Linked DNA regions of Homo sapiens. The protein of the gene in region 5 purifies or fractionates together with the protein of the main gene of each other region. This does not show direct contact. Each region holds a gene or a part of one and is shown on either strand. Other genes may lie near its edges. The genes, in order: CRY1, NR1H4, FABP1, FBP2 and MLXIPL.

Region 1 (4,035 bases), on a different chromosome or scaffold from region 5:
AGAAAATTTTTAAAAACTGGCAAATCCAACGTATAAATATTTTTCATATTAATTTAAATCACAAAATGACATCCCAAATCCAATTAAATTGAATGCAGGCAAGGCTTTCTGATACTTCTAATAAGGGCCAGCATTTTAAAAAATTTTGAACTATTCCCAAATTGGAAATAATTTAGATTTTAGAAGCATCATAACAGATAAAAGAAATTTATCAACATTTAAGAGGCAAAGATTTAGGGGAAAGTTCATAAAAAGATTATATTAATGTCACTAAAATAAACAGGCCACTTTAATTGTTTTAGACTCATAGTTACATAGTAAGGAAATAAAAAAGTTGTCTTTTTCTAAGAAAAAACTTGACCACAAAATCATAAACATCTCTAATTTAAAGAGCATTGGTTCAGATGAATATAAAACTGGTGCAACAATTTCTCCAGTACAGATGCATGTCTCTTGACCAAAAATTAACTGAGTTTGTAAAAATTGCTTAAAAATTAATGCCTCAAGATTTTCTGGTTTGAAAATAGAGATTTGCTCCATTTTTGAAATTATCTTAATTTATGTTAATTATATACTCTTCTAAAGCAAGAAATACAGCTCTAAAATATTTACCTAATTAGTGCTCTGTCTCTGGACTTTAGGACCAATACTCTGTGTGTCCTCTTCCTGACTAGGACGTTTCCCACCACTGAGACCAGTGCCCATGGAGCTTCTTCCTGCACATTTAAAAAATGTATGTTTAAGATAGGAAAAGGAAAAAGAACAGTATGCTCCAATGCTTCATTCTTACCTTGCTTCAACAGGTGAGTTTGCTGACTGTCGCCATGAGCATAGTGTAAAATACCACTCCCTTGAGAGCAACCTGTTAGTATTTAAAACACAGTAAAATTACTTAAAATCAAATCCAAGATGTATGTATTATTAAGTCTACAAATCCAACTTTTAGCGCTTGTACTTAAGGTCATTTATATGCTTTTAAGACTAAATCTCAATCTTCCTATGAACCAAAAATCACATGCTCAAACCAGGAAAACTTAAATTTAGGCTCACAGAAGTGTTGACAGCTCAAAGGAAAAATCATTGATGATCATTTTCTAAAAAACATTTCCTTACTAGATGACAATTTGAAACTTGACCATGAAGGTAAAACATAGGGGCAAGAGTGAGATAGACATTCCTCCCTCACTCTTGTCCCTTTTCCCACGCTTTTCCTTCAGAGCTCCTCCAAACATATTTCCTTGAGGATAAGGGAATAAGGGCCTGCCCGATGAGTTAAACAATTCAAATCATACGACAAGCAGAAGACACAGACTATGTGGCAGTTACCTAGCCTAAGCAATCCTATCAACCCTTCTAAAAACAAACACTATTATAGGAGAATAGGTTGGCTAGAACAGAGAAGTATGTTTTAGGGAAACATTTCTGTCAGTGTGTCCAGTTTATGGAAAAATATGAGCATTCTGGACCTATCCACGAGCAGGTGGATAGGTCAACACCTTATGGCCTGAACAAGACTGTGCACTTACTTTCGTTTTAATTAACTTCAATCCCAGGCAATCAGTGGCAGTTGCTCACCCTAAGTGAGTATGAAGTACTATCCCATAGTTGTTTTAATTTGCATTTCCCTAATGACTAATAATGCCGATGAACTGATATTTTACAATAAAAAAACCTAAAAGTTAAATAAAAACTAAAACATATTGCTACAGTAGTAAACATATTACAGTCTGTTTTATTATAAGAACAAAAGTAAGACTTCTATGTATAGTTTATTCCTTTCCTGAGCACATGTGCACACACACACAAATACAAAGATGAGCAGAGAAAAATGCAATTTGTGTTGCAGAGATTAAGAATGTTCCACAGTCATTAAAAAAACAAACAAAAACAAACAAACAAAAAACTAAGACAAGTAAAAGAATTTTGCCCTTTGACATGCCTTGTAAGGTACTATAAAAGCCTACAGACAGGATAAGTGTAAGGCATAAAAGGATATGCTTTAGAAGCATTTAAGTCCTTTCAAATGGGGCAGAAACCTGAGAGGAGAAATGTTTAATATTAATAGCATAGCCCAAGCCGTGTCTTTTCACAATTTCCCATTTCCAGGTCTAAAATGTTTTTTTCCTTCATCTGACTACCCAAATGCTACTCAATCCTGCCACCTTTCAAGAAAGTTTCTCTAGTCCCTTCAGCTCTCAATAATCTCTCCCTTTTCTCATATTGCACATGGAGGCAGCATCTTATAATTTATCACTTTTTCATTTGTTTTTGTTTTCCCTCCACACCCCCATTTATACTTAAGTTCTACTTAGCTTTTCATGTCTCATGTCTTTTGAAAGCCTCCAAGAAGCTGGCTACAAACTATGTTACAGGCAAATATTTACATGATTAAAATAATTTCAAGATTTATTAATTCTTCTATTATATAATAAACTACCCTATATACATTTGTGAAGCAAAATTGTCCCAATTTAACCTGCTACTATGATTAGCTTTTGAAGATAATTCCAAATAAACGACACAGGTTTGAGTGGTCTAAGAAGCAGTCTGTGCCATCATTGTGTATTAGCCCAACCCTTGGTTCCTAGCCCATTGCTACCTGCCTGTTATCTTAGTGCTTCACAGAGCTTCTGTCCCTCACTCATGTGTGGGCTGACAAGGCAGGCTGTGAACTGAACAAGAGATCTGAAAGAACTTTTGAAATGATTATCTTGTGGAAGTTTATTCAAATTGTAGGAGATACTGAGAAGGAACATTTCTCAAGTATACTGCCATCACTGGCAACTGTCGACTGCTGGGTGGATCACATTCCAGGAATAAAATATTTTCTCTTGTAAACACTTATGGCATTCCATTTGCAGAGGAGGCCCAATGATGCAGGAAGAAGTACAAGCTTTGGAGCTAGTCAGACTTGGATCTGAATCTTAGCTCAACTACTTACTAACTGTGGGATCTTGGTTAAGTTACCTAATCTTTCTAGGATTATTTCCCCAAATATAAAATGAGGATCCCACTACCTCCTCCCCAGGTTACTGTGAGAAAGTATGCAAAAATCCCTTACTATCTACTGGGCAAAGGTAGGCAGTCAAAATGTGAGTGCTTTTGTCCCCTTCTCCCAAAACTAATTCTTGGAGGATAAAATACATGCTGTTTTCATGAGGATGCAGGACATTTCTGAATTCAAAAAGGTTCAGTTTTTAAAAGGTTTTATTCTTAATATCAACTTAGAACATCTGACTTAAAAAAGCATTCCTCAAATGCTACCCTGTTTTTATCCTGTTTTTTTTATTTTGAAAAATATAGATTCACAAACAGTTGTAAAGTTAGTACAAAGAGGTCCTGTTTCCCTATCTTCTTAGTGACATCTTATGAAACTACAGTACAACAATATAACCAGGTATTGACATTGATACAAAGTGTTTGTATGATTTTATGCTCTTTTATCACATGTATAGATTTCTTTTTTCTTTTTTTTCCCTTCAATTTTTATTTTAAGTTCTGGGGTACATGTGCAGGATGTGCAGGTTTGTTACATAGGCAAACATGTGCCATGGGGGTTTGCTGCACAGATCAACCCATCACCTAGGTATTAAGACCAGCATGCATTAGCTATTCTTCCTAATGCTCTCCCTGCCCCTGCCCCCCCAACAGACCCCAGCATGTGTGTTTTGTTGTTTTTTGTTTTTGAGATGGAGTTTTGCTCTTGTTATCCAGGCTGGAGTGCAATGGCGCGATCTCAGCTCACCACAACCTCTGCCTCCTGGGTTCAAGTGATTCTCCTGCCTCAGCCTCCCAAGTAGCTGGGATTACAGGCATGCGCTACCACGCCCGGCCAATTTTGTCTTTTTAGTAGAGACGGGGGTTTCTCCATGTTGGTCAGGGGCTGGTCTCAAACTCCCAACCTCAGGTGATCCACCCACCTCGGCCTCCCAAAGTGCTGGGATTACAAGTGTGAGCTACTGCACCTGGCCCCAGTATGTGTTGTTCTCCGCATGTATCCATGTGTTCTCATCATTCTACTTCCACTTACAAGCA
Region 2 (4,035 bases), on a different chromosome or scaffold from region 5:
AACCTACTAAGCCATCTAAGTTCTTGAAAAGGGTAATGAACCACTGAAATTGTCCAAACTGTCAACTAAAGAGCATTTTAGTCACCCGAAAGAAATGGGTTTTTTTTGTTGTTTTTCTTTGTCGCAGTGAACTATACATGGAGCCCAGTGGCATTAACATACCATTCAAATAATGTGCTTTAATGAGCTACGAATGACATCTAAAAGTTTCCTCTAAATTTGATTTTAATATACTTATTATTTATTGCTTAATTAGCATACAAATTCACTATTGTGGAAAAAAATGAGAATGCTTTATAAGGTATAACTGCCTCTGAATTGTCTAAATAGAGTTCTAAACCAAGTCATTTTATTAAGGATCTGTCTTCTCTTAGTGCAGCTTTGAACCAATTTGTATAGGTTTACACAGGAAATTAACTACTCCCAGTTTTAATATAATTTTGTCTTTCTATCTGATAAAGAGACACTGTATTAACTGCTGGCTTTGTGAGGAACTGTAATCTTCATCAAAAATTGGAATGCATGCTAGTATATAACATAATTAATTTTTCATTCTGCAAATTCTACAGACCACTCAGATTCTGAGATATGTCCTGTTTCTCCTCAAAACACAAATAGACAAATGTCACCAAGGGGATGACAGCATTCAGGCAGGGAATGCCAAATGAAATAAAAGCCTTCAGAAGGTGACTCCAGTTCTATTGTTACCAAACTGTACGGGCAACTGGGATGGACCCAGGGAAATAATGCATGCAGGTTGGGGGAAAATAGGTCTGTGTAAATAATCCAGCTCTGGGTGGATGAAAATTTTATAGTAGCTGATCACAATCTCATCTTAGCATACATGAAATGAGAACCTGCAATAGGGGCTGCTGCTGGAATCCAATCTTGCAATGGAAACACTTACTCTGACACTGCACAGCTCATATAGCTCATCACTTAAATATGAACTTGTTCCAGCTGGAGCGCTGAGGACATTTTGCATGAAGCCACATATAGCAGTCTATAATATTTATGAACACAAACTCATCCAGTAACAGATGCGGATATTTCATGGTTCTATAAAATAAATTCCCTGTACAAAGAAATTCCTGGAACTTTGTTTTATTGGCATTGAGAAAAGAGTAAGGACGTTAAATGGGATGAAGGGAAGATTGTTTTACATTATTTTTAATAGCTCTCTTTTTTTTTTTTTTGTTGAGACGGAGTCTCGCTCTGTCGCCCAGGCCGGACTGCGGACTGCAGTGGCGCAATCTCGGCTCACTGCAAGCTCCGCTTCCCGGGTTCACGCCATTCTCCTGCCTCAGCCTCCCGAGTAGCTGGGACTACAGGCGCCCGCCACTGCGCCCGGCTAATTTTTTGTATTTTTAGTAGAGACGGGGTTTCACCTTGTTAGCCAGGATGGTCTCGATCTCCTGACCTCATCCACCCGCCTCGGCCTCCCAAAGTGCTGGGATTACAGGCGTGAGCCACCGCGCCCGGCCTTAATAGCTCTCTTTAAGTGTAAATCAATGAGGTTGATTGTATGATCATTCAAAGACATTTTAAAAGTCACCTTGTATTATTTTTATTTTTAACTGTATTCTCAGGAATTGGCACTGTTCTTAAAATTAACAGGATTTTAAAAATTTCCCTAAAGGATGTTAACATTTGTTTTTCTCAATAAGTTTATATGTATTTAATGTGAAATTCAATATCCTTCTTCTGGTACAGTATGTAAACATGGATGAAAATAATATTAATGGCATGTTTTAAAACACCAATTTTCACAGTCCCCTAGAGCAGGAACAGGGAGAGTGTCATTCACCTTTTCATTGACTGAATCCCTTGCATTTGTACAATGCTTTCATATCACAAGTTCTTTATATAAAGCTCATTTAAAAATGATTATTGCTTTTATTTTGTGTAGATTATTGCTTTTAATCTACACAAAACTCTATGAGGTAGATATTATTCCCATTTTACAAATGAGGAAACTGAGACTCACAGAGGTTAAACTACTTGTTCAAGGTTAAGTCTCAAACCTTGGCCTTCCCTTTCTAAAATGCATAAAAGGCTAGCGTTAGTTCTGTGCCATTGCATAGGGGATCTTCTGGGCCAGGTACATATCAGTGGTTTTATGACCACACACCCAACAGTACTTTCTGTGATTGGTGAAGTCTCTATGCTTATTTGTTTTAGGCTTGTTAACTGAAATTCAGTGTAAATCTAAGCGACTGAGAAAAAATGTGAAGCAGCATGCAGATCAGACCGTGAATGAAGACAGTGAAGGTCGTGACTTGCGACAAGTGACCTCGACAACAAAGTCATGCAGGGTAATAATATGCAATGGTGTCTGCCAAGACTGGCAGGAACTGAGTTTCTAGGTACATAGTGAGCTGGCCAGGAGGCTTTCAAATTAAAGCCACAGGCACAGCTGAATTTCTAGTCCAATTGTTCATTAAAATGGATTCCTAATACATGCTTTGATGTAAACATTCAAATAGTAGCAATGCATAAACTAAAAAGTGAAAGTTTTCCTTCTCTCTGACTCCATTCCAGTCCTACTACCTAGTGTTTGCCAGCAGAAATGATTTGGTGTATAAAATGGATTTTTTCCAACTGAGTATTGATGACCATTTTTTCCCTCTTTTTGAGAAGACAGTCTCAAACTGGGAAGAACATGGTCTCAATAGAGGCTGTGGATTAATCCTTATAAATGAGTAAAACAGGGTGAATACACGTATGTGGATGAATAGAGAAAAGTCCTACCCACTGGGGTTACAAATTTCTCAAGAAATCCATTGAGCAACTTAGGACAAAATAGGGGAACAGCATCCAAGGTGTTTAGACACACACATTGTGATAATGCACAGGACATTTGATGGAATTTTATTTTGCCATTAGCTGAAAAACCAGTAAGCTATGATTGTCCAAACCACACCCTTCTCAATATTTATTACATTATTGACAAAGAAAACTTTATCCACATTTAGTTTTACAAATACGTATTTTTGTATTTATTTAAGAAAAAGTATTTTATATGAAAGCATTATTTTGCCATAGTGCTTCATCAGTAACACTTTGGTATAAGAAAACAAAGAGTTGACATAATTATTCACACTCTTCAAAAGATGCTGTAGAGGGAGAAAGAGATGTTTGGGGTCTGAATTGTCCAGATTGTTGACTCTCTATTTTAGGGGTTGACAAACTTTTTTTCTTTAAAGGGCTTTGGCCACATGGTATCTACAACAGCTACTCAACTCTGCCATTTTAGTGCAAAAGTAGCAGAGACAATACATAAACAAATGAGTGTGACTGTGTTCCAATAAAACTTTATAAAATCCAATGGATTTGGTCCATGGGCCACAGTTTGTTGATCCCTCCTCCACATGAATACTCTCAGATGACTTCACCAGGTGGAATTCATGTAGAATAGTATATGAATATAGTATTCATAGTAGTCATACTATATGAAAACCTTTCATTAGTTATAATTAAAGCTTGAACTTTCAGTGACCTTCAATATGAATGGGCTCAATAGTCTTCATATCCAGACTACCATTTATTCCTAAGAAATACACAAGTGGAATATTTTGTTATTCATATTTTATAGATAGGAAAATTCAGTGAAATGTGATATGGCCTGCCTGAGGACCCAGAGAAAGAAATTATACACTCTCTTAGAACTCATAGTTCCTGCTGTATTTATGCCTTTTTTTTTTTATGATTTCTGCTATTAGGTCCCTCCAGATGAATGCACATATAGAAAGAAGGCTTTATACACATCTTCCCTAACACCTTTTATTTTCTTGCCAGTGTAGGAGAAAACTGAACTCACCCCAGATCAACAGACTCTTCTACATTTTATTATGGATTCATATAACAAACAGAGGATGCCTCAGGAAATAACAAATAAAATTGTATGTATAATATCTGAAAATATGTGGGTTTAAAGTTAATATTTTCTGGAGTTTTTATTGCCTTGGAGGTATAATTTATATGTGAATATGTTACTTTGAAATGATTAGAGCTGAGAATTCAAGTTAGACTTTT
Region 3 (2,581 bases), on a different chromosome or scaffold from region 5:
CCTGCCCATAGCATGGAGGGAACTTCCACTGAGCCTCCTCTGTCCACTTCTGGCGCCTCTCACTAAGCCCTTTGCTCAGCCTCCCACAGGAGGAAAAGTTTATTGGGCGGGTCAGTGTCGACCTTTCTGCACCTGTCTGCTGGTGGGCTGGTACTGTGGCTGTGCTTGTGGGTATAGCTCTCCTTTTCTGCCCAGTCTTCCTGCTCCCTGTCCCCACAGAGAGCACCCTCAAGGCCAGCCCACTGCACATCCTCTGGCTCCAGCTCCTTGCCCGTGTGCCTGACTGGGAAAGGGCATTCCAGGGCCTTCCTGCAGATCTAGCCACACCTGGCTTTCCTGGCAGAACACCTGGGTGTGCAGCATGGGTTTTGTGTTCAGGGAATTACTCTTCGGATTTGACCTGGTAGTGTGGATCATGTGGATTATCAACATTTACGAAAGTATATTTACGAGAATATGGTGAGCAATAGCACCATCAATGAAAAGGCATTGAGAAGACATTTTTTTTTAAAACAAAGTTCACTTTATTACATTAATTTTACACACTAAAATAATATGAAATGCAGACTTGTTTAAATTCTCTTGCTGATTCTCTTGAAGACAATGTCACCCAATGTCATGGTCTGAAAGCCAGAAAAGAAATTATGAAGTGTTCATCTGATGTTGTATTGTAAAAAACAAAATTAAGCATAAAAAACAAAATTAAGCTTAAAAAACAGCACCAAATATGTTGGCATATGAAACAATTCAAAAATTCGTCTGGTTTCCTGTAGGACCGGAGGAAAGGTTGGCAATGTTTTCCAAAATCCTATGCCAAGTCTTTGTCACTTCTCCTCCTCACCTGGAAAGTCCTCCTGCCTTTGACTGAATTCTTTTCTACATCAATGACTGTTATAGCAAGACCATCCAAACCAGCCCAATCTAATTTCTCAAAATTTCATTGAGTACCTACTATGCACCAAATACATGTTGAGCACCAAGGATACATGTACATGGACACAACTAGGCACACAGCCTGGAAGGCAGTGGGTAGTGCATAATTGTCCTCCTATAGCTGTGAAGCATATAAAAACAGTGGATGCATCAGCTTTTGAGTTTTTAAGGATGTTTCCTCCACCCCTGCCAGTTCTCTTGAATAAGACTGCTGGAATGACATACCATGTCATCAGGGTGAAAAGGAGCCCCTCAGTTTCAGCAGCAATGCAATAGTTGCTGCTTGATGGGTTTGAGCCCTGGATTTAACATTTATTAGCTGATGACTTGGACAGGTCAACCTGTCTATTGAATCCCTCATCCAGCCTCCCTCGAAGGAGACAGGAGGATTAGGTGAGATGGAACCTATCAAAGGGCGTTGGCCAGGACTTACTGCAGGATAGCTCATCTCCTGCTCCCCTGCTCTCCTGGGAATGTGCTGGGGCGGAGGTGGAAACTGCACATTGGGTGGTTGATGCTCACACTCTCTCTAGTTTAAGAATTTTTCCATTTGAATAGAGTGATGACAGCGCCCTGAGGCAGTGTTCTGTTGTCTGTGACTCCCTAAAGCATATTCTGGGGGCAAAGAAGAGTCAGGGGGACATACCTGCAGGAGAAACACTGCACCATTCACCCCCAAATAGGGTACAGGATGTGGCTGGCAGCCAGGCACCAAGGCTGACTGCATAACTGGACTGTGCCAGGCTTGTAAGCTGCCATAATATGACCATGAATGGGATTCTCTTTATAAACGCTAAATGGGCAAAGGCATTTATGAAGCACCCTGGGCATGCAGGGCAGGTGGAGGCCTCTGTGGCTGGTTGGTTGCGCTGAGCAGAAAGGATTAGTGATAATGTGTGTAAACTGCCTGGGACATGATGGATCCTCAGTAAGTGCTGGCAGATACTGACCACAGGAAAGAAGTTTGGGGGTTGGAGGGTGGAGGGGTGGCATTAGGGTATGTGAGCCGCTCCCCATGCTTCACCTCCCCTCTCCCCTCAAGCACTGGGAGCCACACGCTCAGAGCACCACCAACTTACATTGGTGATTATGTCGCCGTTGAGTTCGGTCACAGACTTGATGTTTTTGAAAGTTGTCACCAGTTTATTGTCACCTTCCAACTGAACCACTGTCTGCAGGGAACAGAGAGGTGACCTGTGAGGAAGGGGTGGTGGGGGGCAAGAGCCTTGCTAATGAAGTTGCTTCCTTTGCACAGGTCTCAGCTCATAACAACCAAAATGCTCTGGTTCCTATGATCCCAAGCCTCTAGTTCTCTGGCTCCAAATAGAAGTGAGGTGCATTTAAGAACTAAATAAAATGTCACGACTTCTTTTGTCAGAACTTTAATTCATGGCATGTGATCTAGAAATGAGCATGGAACACCTAAGTGGCCCCAAATACAAATGCTAAAATCAAATCAAGTAAAATCTCAATTCTCCCAAGCTAATGGAGGGAGGTAGTGGCAAAATTCAAATATTGACCAGTAGAGAATACATATTTTGCTTTGGTATGTATTCTTCTTTTTTTTTTTTTTTTAATTGAGATGAGGTCTTGCTATGTTGCCCAGGCTGGTCTTGAACTCCTAGGCTCAAACAGTCCTTTCACTTCA
Region 4 (4,035 bases), on a different chromosome or scaffold from region 5:
ATCAACTTCCTAATACATAGAAGACTCTCAAATACAATGTAACTGGCACTCTGCTTATTTTTCTCTTTGGTTGCTATGGATTGTTTGTTTGAGAGAGTCTTGCTCTGTCACCCAGGCTGGAGTGCAGTGGCATGATCTCAGCTCACTGCAACCTGCACTTCCTGGGTTCAAGCAATTCTCTTGCCTCAGCCTCCTGAGTAGCTGGAATTACAGGCGTGCACCATCACCCTGGCTAATTTTTGTATTTTTAGTAGAGACGGGGTTTCACCATGTTTCCCAGACTGGTCTCGACCACCTAGCCTCAAGGCCTCAAGTGATCCGCCCGCCTCAGCCTCCCAAAGTTCTGGGATTACAGGCGTGAGCCACCGCAGCTGGCGAGGTTGCTATGGATTTTATTGCCGTTGTACACTTTATATAGAATGAAGGACAAGTTTTCTGAATTGTGAAGTTTCTAGTCCTGCTGGATGTCACAAACCCACCCAGCTCTCTGTTGCTAGGATTTCAGGGTAGGCAGAATGGCCCAAAAGATATGCCAGTCCCCAGGATCTGTGAATACCCAGCATTACATGGCAACAAAGACTTTTCAGGTGTACTCAGGGGTTCAGATTTCAAATAGGGAGATCACCGTGGACCTTCCAGGTTAGATTAGTTCAATCTAATCCAATGAGCGTTAGCAGAAAACTTTCTGTGGCTGGGGACAGGAGAGATGAGGCAAGAGGGGGAGAGGATGTCAGAGATTCAGAATGCCACCTGGAACCTAATGCCATGTCTGACATTTGTGTTGCACCCAGACTTTCAAAACAAGATCTCAGCTGTCCTTCTGTGTTACCCTCCCAGGAATGCCAGAAAGTAGGCAGAGAAAGAATCGCCAATCCAGTTCTTCTAATGAGGAGCCCCAGGCAGAGAAAAGTTGGTGGTTTGCCTACAGTGGCTTTTCTCGTTAGTGGGAAGACAAAGGGTAGGACTCCAAACACACGGTTTTCAGCCCAGGAACCTTCCAGAGACCACCACAGGAAGGAGGTGTAAAATGTCAGCCTGTCTACTCACCTTTCTATAGATGGCAAAGATGGTTCCGATGGAGGCCAGGCAGTCAATATTGGAAGATCCATCCAGTGGGTCAAAGCAGACCACGTATTTCCCCTAAATCAGAGAGGAAAGCACCAACTGATCAGCACATCTTCCCATTAGCACAATTGCTCTGTGTCAGGGCTGTGCGTGGCAGAGTACACCACATCAAAAAGAGATTGAGAACCACAGCATATCTTTATCAAAAAACACCATGACTTACGGAGGGCAGGGTGCCAGTTTATACACAAATACTCCTCTGGGTTTTGTATCCATCTCACCTGTCTGATGCGAAGACCAGAAGATAAAGTGGGTGTGTCTTGAGAGACCAACGTCCCCCACACCCACCCACTCTGCTGTCACAGGCAGCTCAAGCCACCAAGGGAAGCCCCAGGTCCTTTTTATAGCCCCCTGTGTGCAAGGTCACGAGAGACCCTTAGTGATGGCGACCGGAACCCCCAGGCCAATTAAACACGGGTAATGCAACTTCAAGAGAAATGAGGGTCATTTCTCCCTCCACTTGATTTAGTTTTCCCTGACTTTCCAATGAGTATTGGCCTAGCTTCATTTGAGCTTTGTTTCTGTTTTTTTTCCTTGCTCAGCCAGAGTAGAAAAGTTAGATAATTTGTAAACTTGGAAATTCCCCAACATCTCTATAATAATCCAATTTTTTAAAAAAAAATCCAATTTAGCCCATTCATTCATGCATGCATGCATTCAGCAGATACATGTTGAGCTTCCAGCATATGCTGGGAAGTAAGTGTTCAAGGCCCTGGGGTTTGTTTCCGGGGGGTCAGCGATCCCGGCAGCAAGGCTGGATTTCATGGCACTGACATTCCAGTGGGAGAACAGACAGAGAGCACACAGGTCAGGACACATACAAGCAGGCTGTGGCACGTGCCCTAACGAAAACCCACATAGGCTGGGGGCTGGAGAGCCATGAGGGGGGGTCACATTTGATGACAGACCTGACTAGAATTAAGGAATGAAGAAACACACAGAGACCTAGAAAGCAAAATTGTTTGTTTTCTTGTTTTTGTTTTGTTTTGACAGAGTCTCACTCTGTTGCCCAGGATGGAGTGCAGTGGTGTGGTCAGAGCTCGCTGCAGCCTAGAGATCCTGGGCTCAAGCAATCCTCCCACCTCAGACTCCCAAGTAGCTGGGACTACAGGTGCACACCACCATGCCGAGCTAAATTTTTATCTTTTGTATCTTTATGTTGCCTAGGCTGGTCTCAAACTCCTGAGCTCAAGCAATTCTCCCACCTCAGACTCCCGAGTAGCTGGGACTACAGGTGCACACCACCATGCCGAGCTAAATTTTTATCTTTTGTATCTTTATGTTGCCTAGGCTGGTCTCAAACTCCTGAGCTCAAGCAATCCTCCCACCTCAGCCTCCCAAAGCACCGGGATTGCAGGCGTGAGCCACCGCGCCCATCCTAGAAAGAAGAATTTTCGACAGAGAGATCAGCAGGTTTGGAGTATTCAAGAGCTGCCACGGGCCAGGCATGGTGGCTCACGCCTGTAATCCCAGCACTTTGGGAGCCTGAGGCGGGTGGATCACCTGAGGTCAGAGTTCAAGACCAGCCTGGCCAACATGGCGAAACCCCGTCTCTACTAAAAACACAAAAATTAGCGGGGCATGGTGGCGCATGCCTGTAATCCCAGCTACTCAGGAGGCTGAGGCGGGAGAATTGCTTGAACCCGGGAGGCAGAGGTTACAGTGAGCTGAGATTGCGCCATTGCACTCCAGCCTGTCCAGCCGGGCAGTAGAGCAAGACTCCGTCTCAAAAAAATAAATAAATAAGTAAATAAATAAATAAAGGAACTGACATGAAGACCTATGTGGCTATGTGGCTTAGGCCAATAGGAGAAGACAATGGTAGATCAGACTGGAGAGAGAAACAAGAGTCATATCAACTGAAACTGAAAGTTGGAAGTAATAGTGTGATGTAGCTAAAATTATGTGAGACGAGGGCAAAAGTGCCTTTTGCAGTACCTGGCATAGAGCAGAGGTTAAATAAATTTGGCTTTACTTTAAATTCTTTTCCATTCCTCCAGCTAATCACAAAGAAATGGCCTCTTGTCTATTGACTATATTGCAGCTGAACATTGATTGAAACTTTTGGCCATTGGCAAACCTCTCTGTATAATAAGCTGTGTGTGAACCCATAGTGAATGCAGACCCTCCCCAGCCGTGCCTTCCTTCACCGACTTCACCATCCTACGAGGTAAGAGCACAGGAGGCTTGTGGTTTTGTTTCTGGACCAGTCTAACAGCTTGTCAGGCACTAAGAAATCTCTGCTGAAACTGTAACCCCTCGCAAAGTGCCGGCTGGGGGCGGGGGTGGAATGAGAAGGCGGGGCGGTGAGAGGCTGTACAGTACAGCTCTTCCCTGGACTCCACAAGGTTAAGCCCCCAAAAATTTGGCTCTTGTTACTGATTAAGTGAACAGCCACGAACAAGCGCCCACTGAGGCGGTTCCTGCATCACTCTGAACAATTTCCTGAATGAATCACTGTCCTACTGTGGAGTCTTCTTTCTCTAGACAGCACAAGATTTCCAAGTAGAGAAGTATGTAATCCTTTGTTTCCAGAAAACAAATGTTAAGAAATAGAGGAGAATCCCGGGAATTAAAGAAAAGTAAGGCAGCTTATTTCCGGCTCAGTATCATCATCTACTGGCGAGCGGGCACCGCAGCCCCATGACGCACCCGCTTCTCCTTGGCGGTGATGATGGCGTCCTTATTCTCTTCTGAGACCAGGACGCAGGTACTATAGGAGGATTGGACCATGTTGATCACCAGGGAATTGGATAGCACATCCAGTTTCTTCACCTCATCTCCCGTCACGTTAACGCTTCCTGCGATTCCATACCTGAGAAGACAAAAGGCTGAATGAGGAAGTCACTAGGGGGTCTTAACTCCAGCAAAGAGCCTGGGACCCTAAAACGCCAGCAGTGCAGTCCCCTC
Region 5 (4,035 bases):
GGACCCTGGGGACCGGAGGAGGGTGCTGGATACAAGTGGTGGCTCCAGGGCTTGCTCCGGCTTAGCTGTGCACGGGCAGAACCGTGAGGCTACTGGGGCTGGCCCACCCCCGGCATCTATCAAGACCCCATCCTGCCCCTCCCAAGAGTCCACACCCCTTTTAGGTACAGGCCCCACATCCCTCATTCCTTGCCACTCTGTCCCTTGAACTGGACCTGCCCCTTCACCTTCATCTTCTGCTCCCAAAACCCCCTGTCCTCCCCACCCCCTGGCCTCCCTCCCCAGGCTTTCCTCTCCCCGTTGCTGGCCCTCACCTGCTGTGAGCAGCTGTGTGAGGCAGGGGTTGTTGCTCCCCGCAGTGGTGGGGGGACTGGCAGTGGCAGGGGCTAAGGTAGGGGGGCTGGCTTTCTGTCCCCTAGGGGATGGGGCGGGGGGCTTGCCTCTGGGCATGGAGAAGCAAGGCCCAAAGGCAGGCTCCGAATACCCCAAGGGTAGAAGCTCTATGGGGAAGGGGGTGGGGGCTGGGCTGGGGACAGACTGTGGGGTGGGTGGGAAGGCTGCAGGAGCAGGCAGCGGAGACACTCCTGGGGCAGGAGGGACGGTGGGGAAGGGAAACCTGGGAGAGAAGAGAGGCTCTTCCTGCAGCAAAGCAGTGGGTGGTGCCATGGGAGGGAAGGGAGGTGGGGGGCAGGGCTCCAGGCCTGGCACCTTGGCAGGGGGAGGGTAATGCAGCAGAGGTGGGGGTACAGGAGGGGGTGGGAGCCGGGGCTTGGGGTCTTCAGGAAGGAGGAAATCAGAACTCAGGAAGGCGCTGGAGTCCAAGGGGCCAGGGCAGCTGTTCCGAGCCTGGTTGGGGGGACAGACAGACACTCAGAGAGCAGGGGAGAGAGCTGCCCCTGGCAGCCATCTGGGCCTCCCCTGCCCTGCCTTGCCCTGGCCAAACTCTAGACTGGGGCCCTGGGGAGAGATAGGAGAAATGAGCCCTGCCTTCCAACACACACAGGTGTGCGAACATATACATGCAGCAGGGAAATTACAATGAGAGGAGGGAGTCGAGTACATTTATGCAAAAAGCAGGAACAGCGGAGCATCAATCTTCCTGCCCGTCCATTTGTCTCCCAAATAACTTATTCATCCATCCATCCACTAACTTGTCCACCAATCCATCCACCAACCAACTCACCCATCCATTCATCATCCATCCATCCACTAACTTGTCCACTGATCCATCCACCAACCAACCTACCATTCCTTCATCATCCATCCACTAACTTCACCAATCCATCCACTAACCAACCCACCCATCCATTCATCAATTGTCCATCTACTACTTCATCCACCAATCTCTCCATCCATCCGTCTTCCATCCATTCACCTACCTATTTATCAATCTATGAACCAGCTCATCTACCACTCTCTCCACCAGCCTACCAGATATTAACATATTAACTAATCCATCCAACCATCTATACTTCCATCATTCATCCACCAACCCATCCATAATCCTTCCATCCATCCACCATCTATACATTTCCAGCCACTTAACCACCAATGAACCCATTCACTAATCCATTAAACTATTCATCTATGTATCCATCCACCAGCCCACCCATCCACCCAACCACTCACCTACCCATATATCCACCAACCCACGTGTGCCTCCACCGCAGTCTAAGATGCATCTATCCATTCACCAGCACGCCCATTCATCTGCACACTTGCTCATTCATTCAGTCACTGACTCACTCATTGGACAACCATTCACTGAGTGCTGTTATGTGCCTGAGCTGTATTAGGTATAGAGAATGCAGTGGTGAGCAAAACATAACCCTTTCAGTAAGGAGCTCACTGTCTGATGGAGGAGAGACACCCCTCAGCAACCGATTAGAATTAGCACCTGAAAAGTCTGATGATGGAGGGAAAAGGCCTATAACCAAGCAGCAGGAAGCAACTTCTGAACTGCACCTGGGGGCCAGGTGTGGTGGCTCACACCTGTAATCCCACCACCTTGGGAGGCCGAGGCGGGCGGACTACTGAGGTCAGGAGTTTGAGACCAGCCTGGGCAACATGGTGAAACCCTGTCTCTACTAAAAATACAAAAATAAGCCGGAAATCGCTTGAACACGGGAGGCGGAGGTTACAGTGAGCCGAGATCATGCCACTGCACTCGAGCCTAGGCGACAGAGTGAGACTCTGTCTCAAAGAAAAAAAAAAAAAAGAATTGCATATGGGGAATTGATGAACCAAAATGGTAGATTCACTGTTTCCTAAACATCCACGCTCAGCTTTCTGCCTCGAAGCTTTTGTTCCTGCTGTTCTCCCATCTGGCTTGAGGTCAGCCAGTCCCTTCTGTCCAAAGCTGACCTATTCTCTAAGGCCCAGAAACTCCCCTTCTCCAGGAAGCCTTCCACAAGCAACTGGCCCTTGGTGGAGCCCATTCCATGGTCTCCATGCCCTTAGCTTTCTCCCACAACCGTTTTGTCCAGTTCTGCTTCACGGGGTCCCTCCCAGAGGGCAGAGATGGGGTCTTTCTTTCCCTCCAATCTCCAAGCAGAAGACTGGGCACTCAGGGAGTGTCTGATACCTCCTGGACATGAACAGGGCAGGAACAGCTCTCAAGTGAGCTACACAGGGCTGGACGGGGTGGGGTGAGCTCACCTGCAGACGGCTGTGTCCAGAGAGGTGGGTCATGGCCGAGGAAGCCGGGGGCACCTCTGGGCCCAGGGTCCCACTGCTGAAGAGGGAGTCAACCACGGGGCTGAAGCTGGGGGGCTCTGGGAAGTTTGAAGGCATGGGCGGCTGTGGGAGGCGGGAGTTGGTAAAGAAATCTGTAATTCAGACACACAGGGCAACAGCAGTTAGGGCCAGGGCTATGGCTGGGAAACAGCTGAGAGGAGAGTGGCCTGTCCCCAGCCTTGGCGGGTGGGGACATGGGGACTGGCGGGCAGAGGGTGGGGGTCCCTTCCACAGAAGATTGTGAAACTGGGAGGGTTTCTGTCTCGATTAGGGGAAGCAGCAACCGTCTTGGGTGGAATGAGCTTGCGTGGGAGAGAGCAGGGGACTGTGGATGTGAACAGGGACCCCAGGAAGGAGCCCCCTCCCCTCCCCAGCCCCAGGCTTAGCTCAGGAAGTCCCCCTCCCCACCCCCTGGTGGCTCCCCTTCCCTGATCTGCTGGAGGTGCAGAAAGGGGGTGCCCAGAGCGAGTGCCAGGGTGGAAAAGGGGTACGGTGCTAGGGGAGGAGGCCTGGCATGGGAGGGGCCCCAGGGTGGCAGAAGTTCAAGAGGGTGAGTTGGAGATGAGGGGGAACGTGAGGTCACTGGGTCCGGGACAAGCTTGGTTTGTTGGAAGGTCAACAGGTGGAGCCTAGGAGTGGGGTGAAGAGTGTAATGGGGCGAGAGGGGCCTAAGGCTGGGCTCCGAGTGGGGTGGGGGCGAGAGGGGCCTAAGGGTGGGCTCTGAGTGGTGTGTGGGCAAGAGGGAGATATGGGTGGGCTCTGAGTGGGATGGGGGTGAGGGGGGTGCCTAAGGCTGGGCTCCAAGTGGGGTGTGGGCAAGAGGGGCTAAGGGTGGGCTCTGAGTGGGGTGGGGGCGAGAGGGGCCTAAGGGTGGGTTCTGAGTGGGGTGTGGGCAAGAGGGGGATACGGGTGGGCTCCAAGTGGGGGGGGGGTGAAGGGGGACCTAAGACTGGGCTCCAAGTGGGGTGGGGGCAAGAGGGGCTAAGGGTGGGCTCCAAGTAGGGTGGGGATGAGAGGGGGCCTAAGGGTGGGCTCCGAGTGGGGTGGGGGCGAGAGGGGCCTAAGGCTGGGCTCCGAAAGGGGTGGGGGCGAGAGGGGCCCTAAGGGTGGGCTCTGAGTGGGGTGGGGGCGAGAGGGGCCTAAGGGTGGGCTCTGAGTGGGGTGGGGCAAGGGGTCTGGGAAGCCTGCGAGAGCTGGGGGAGGCAGTAGCGGATTGTTTGGGGTGCGGGTTGTGTAAGTCCTGGGCTATTCTGGTTTTGGGAAGCAGCTGGCCACGGCCTGACCACATCCCGGGCCTGG

Evidence for each region.
Region 1: the proteins of MLXIPL (region 5) and CRY1 purify together in Homo sapiens (affinity purification with western blotting, with the first as the bait; one study listed by BioGRID). This does not show direct contact.
Region 2: the proteins of MLXIPL (region 5) and NR1H4 purify together in Homo sapiens (affinity purification with mass spectrometry, with the first as the bait; one study listed by BioGRID). This does not show direct contact.
Region 3: the proteins of MLXIPL (region 5) and FABP1 purify together in Homo sapiens (affinity purification with mass spectrometry, with the first as the bait; one study listed by BioGRID). This does not show direct contact.
Region 4: the proteins of MLXIPL (region 5) and FBP2 purify together in Homo sapiens (affinity purification with mass spectrometry, with the first as the bait; one study listed by BioGRID). This does not show direct contact.

What each region holds. Positions count from the first base shown.
Region 1 is NC_000012.12:106,992,175-106,996,209, forward strand, and holds part of CRY1 (cryptochrome-1), read right to left. Parts: intron 863-4,035; coding exon 791-862; intron 717-790; coding exon 613-716; exon of another isoform or gene 1-612.
Region 2 is NC_000012.12:100,532,709-100,536,743, forward strand, and holds part of NR1H4 (bile acid receptor), read left to right. Parts: intron 1-2,181; coding exon 2,182-2,315; intron 2,316-3,798; coding exon of another isoform or gene 3,799-3,803; coding exon 3,804-3,902; intron 3,903-4,035. UniProt on the Homo sapiens protein: Ligand-activated transcription factor. Receptor for bile acids (BAs) such as chenodeoxycholic acid (CDCA), lithocholic acid, deoxycholic acid (DCA) and allocholic acid (ACA).
Region 3 is NC_000002.12:88,122,482-88,125,062, forward strand, and holds the end of FABP1 (fatty acid-binding protein, liver), read right to left. Parts: intron 2,106-2,581; coding exon 2,013-2,105; intron 624-2,012; coding exon 573-623; 3' UTR 501-572; downstream 1-500.
Region 4 is NC_000009.12:94,583,530-94,587,564, forward strand, and holds part of FBP2 (fructose-1,6-bisphosphatase isozyme 2), read right to left. Parts: intron 3,941-4,035; coding exon 3,778-3,940; intron 1,141-3,777; coding exon 1,048-1,140; intron 1-1,047.
Region 5 is NC_000007.14:73,596,868-73,600,902, forward strand, and holds part of MLXIPL (carbohydrate-responsive element-binding protein), read right to left. Parts: intron 2,829-4,035; coding exon 2,659-2,828; intron 847-2,658; coding exon 315-846; intron 66-314; coding exon 1-65. UniProt on the Homo sapiens protein: Binds DNA as a heterodimer with MLX/TCFL4 and activates transcription. Binds to the canonical E box sequence 5'-CACGTG-3'. Plays a role in transcriptional activation of glycolytic target genes. Involved in glucose-responsive gene regulation.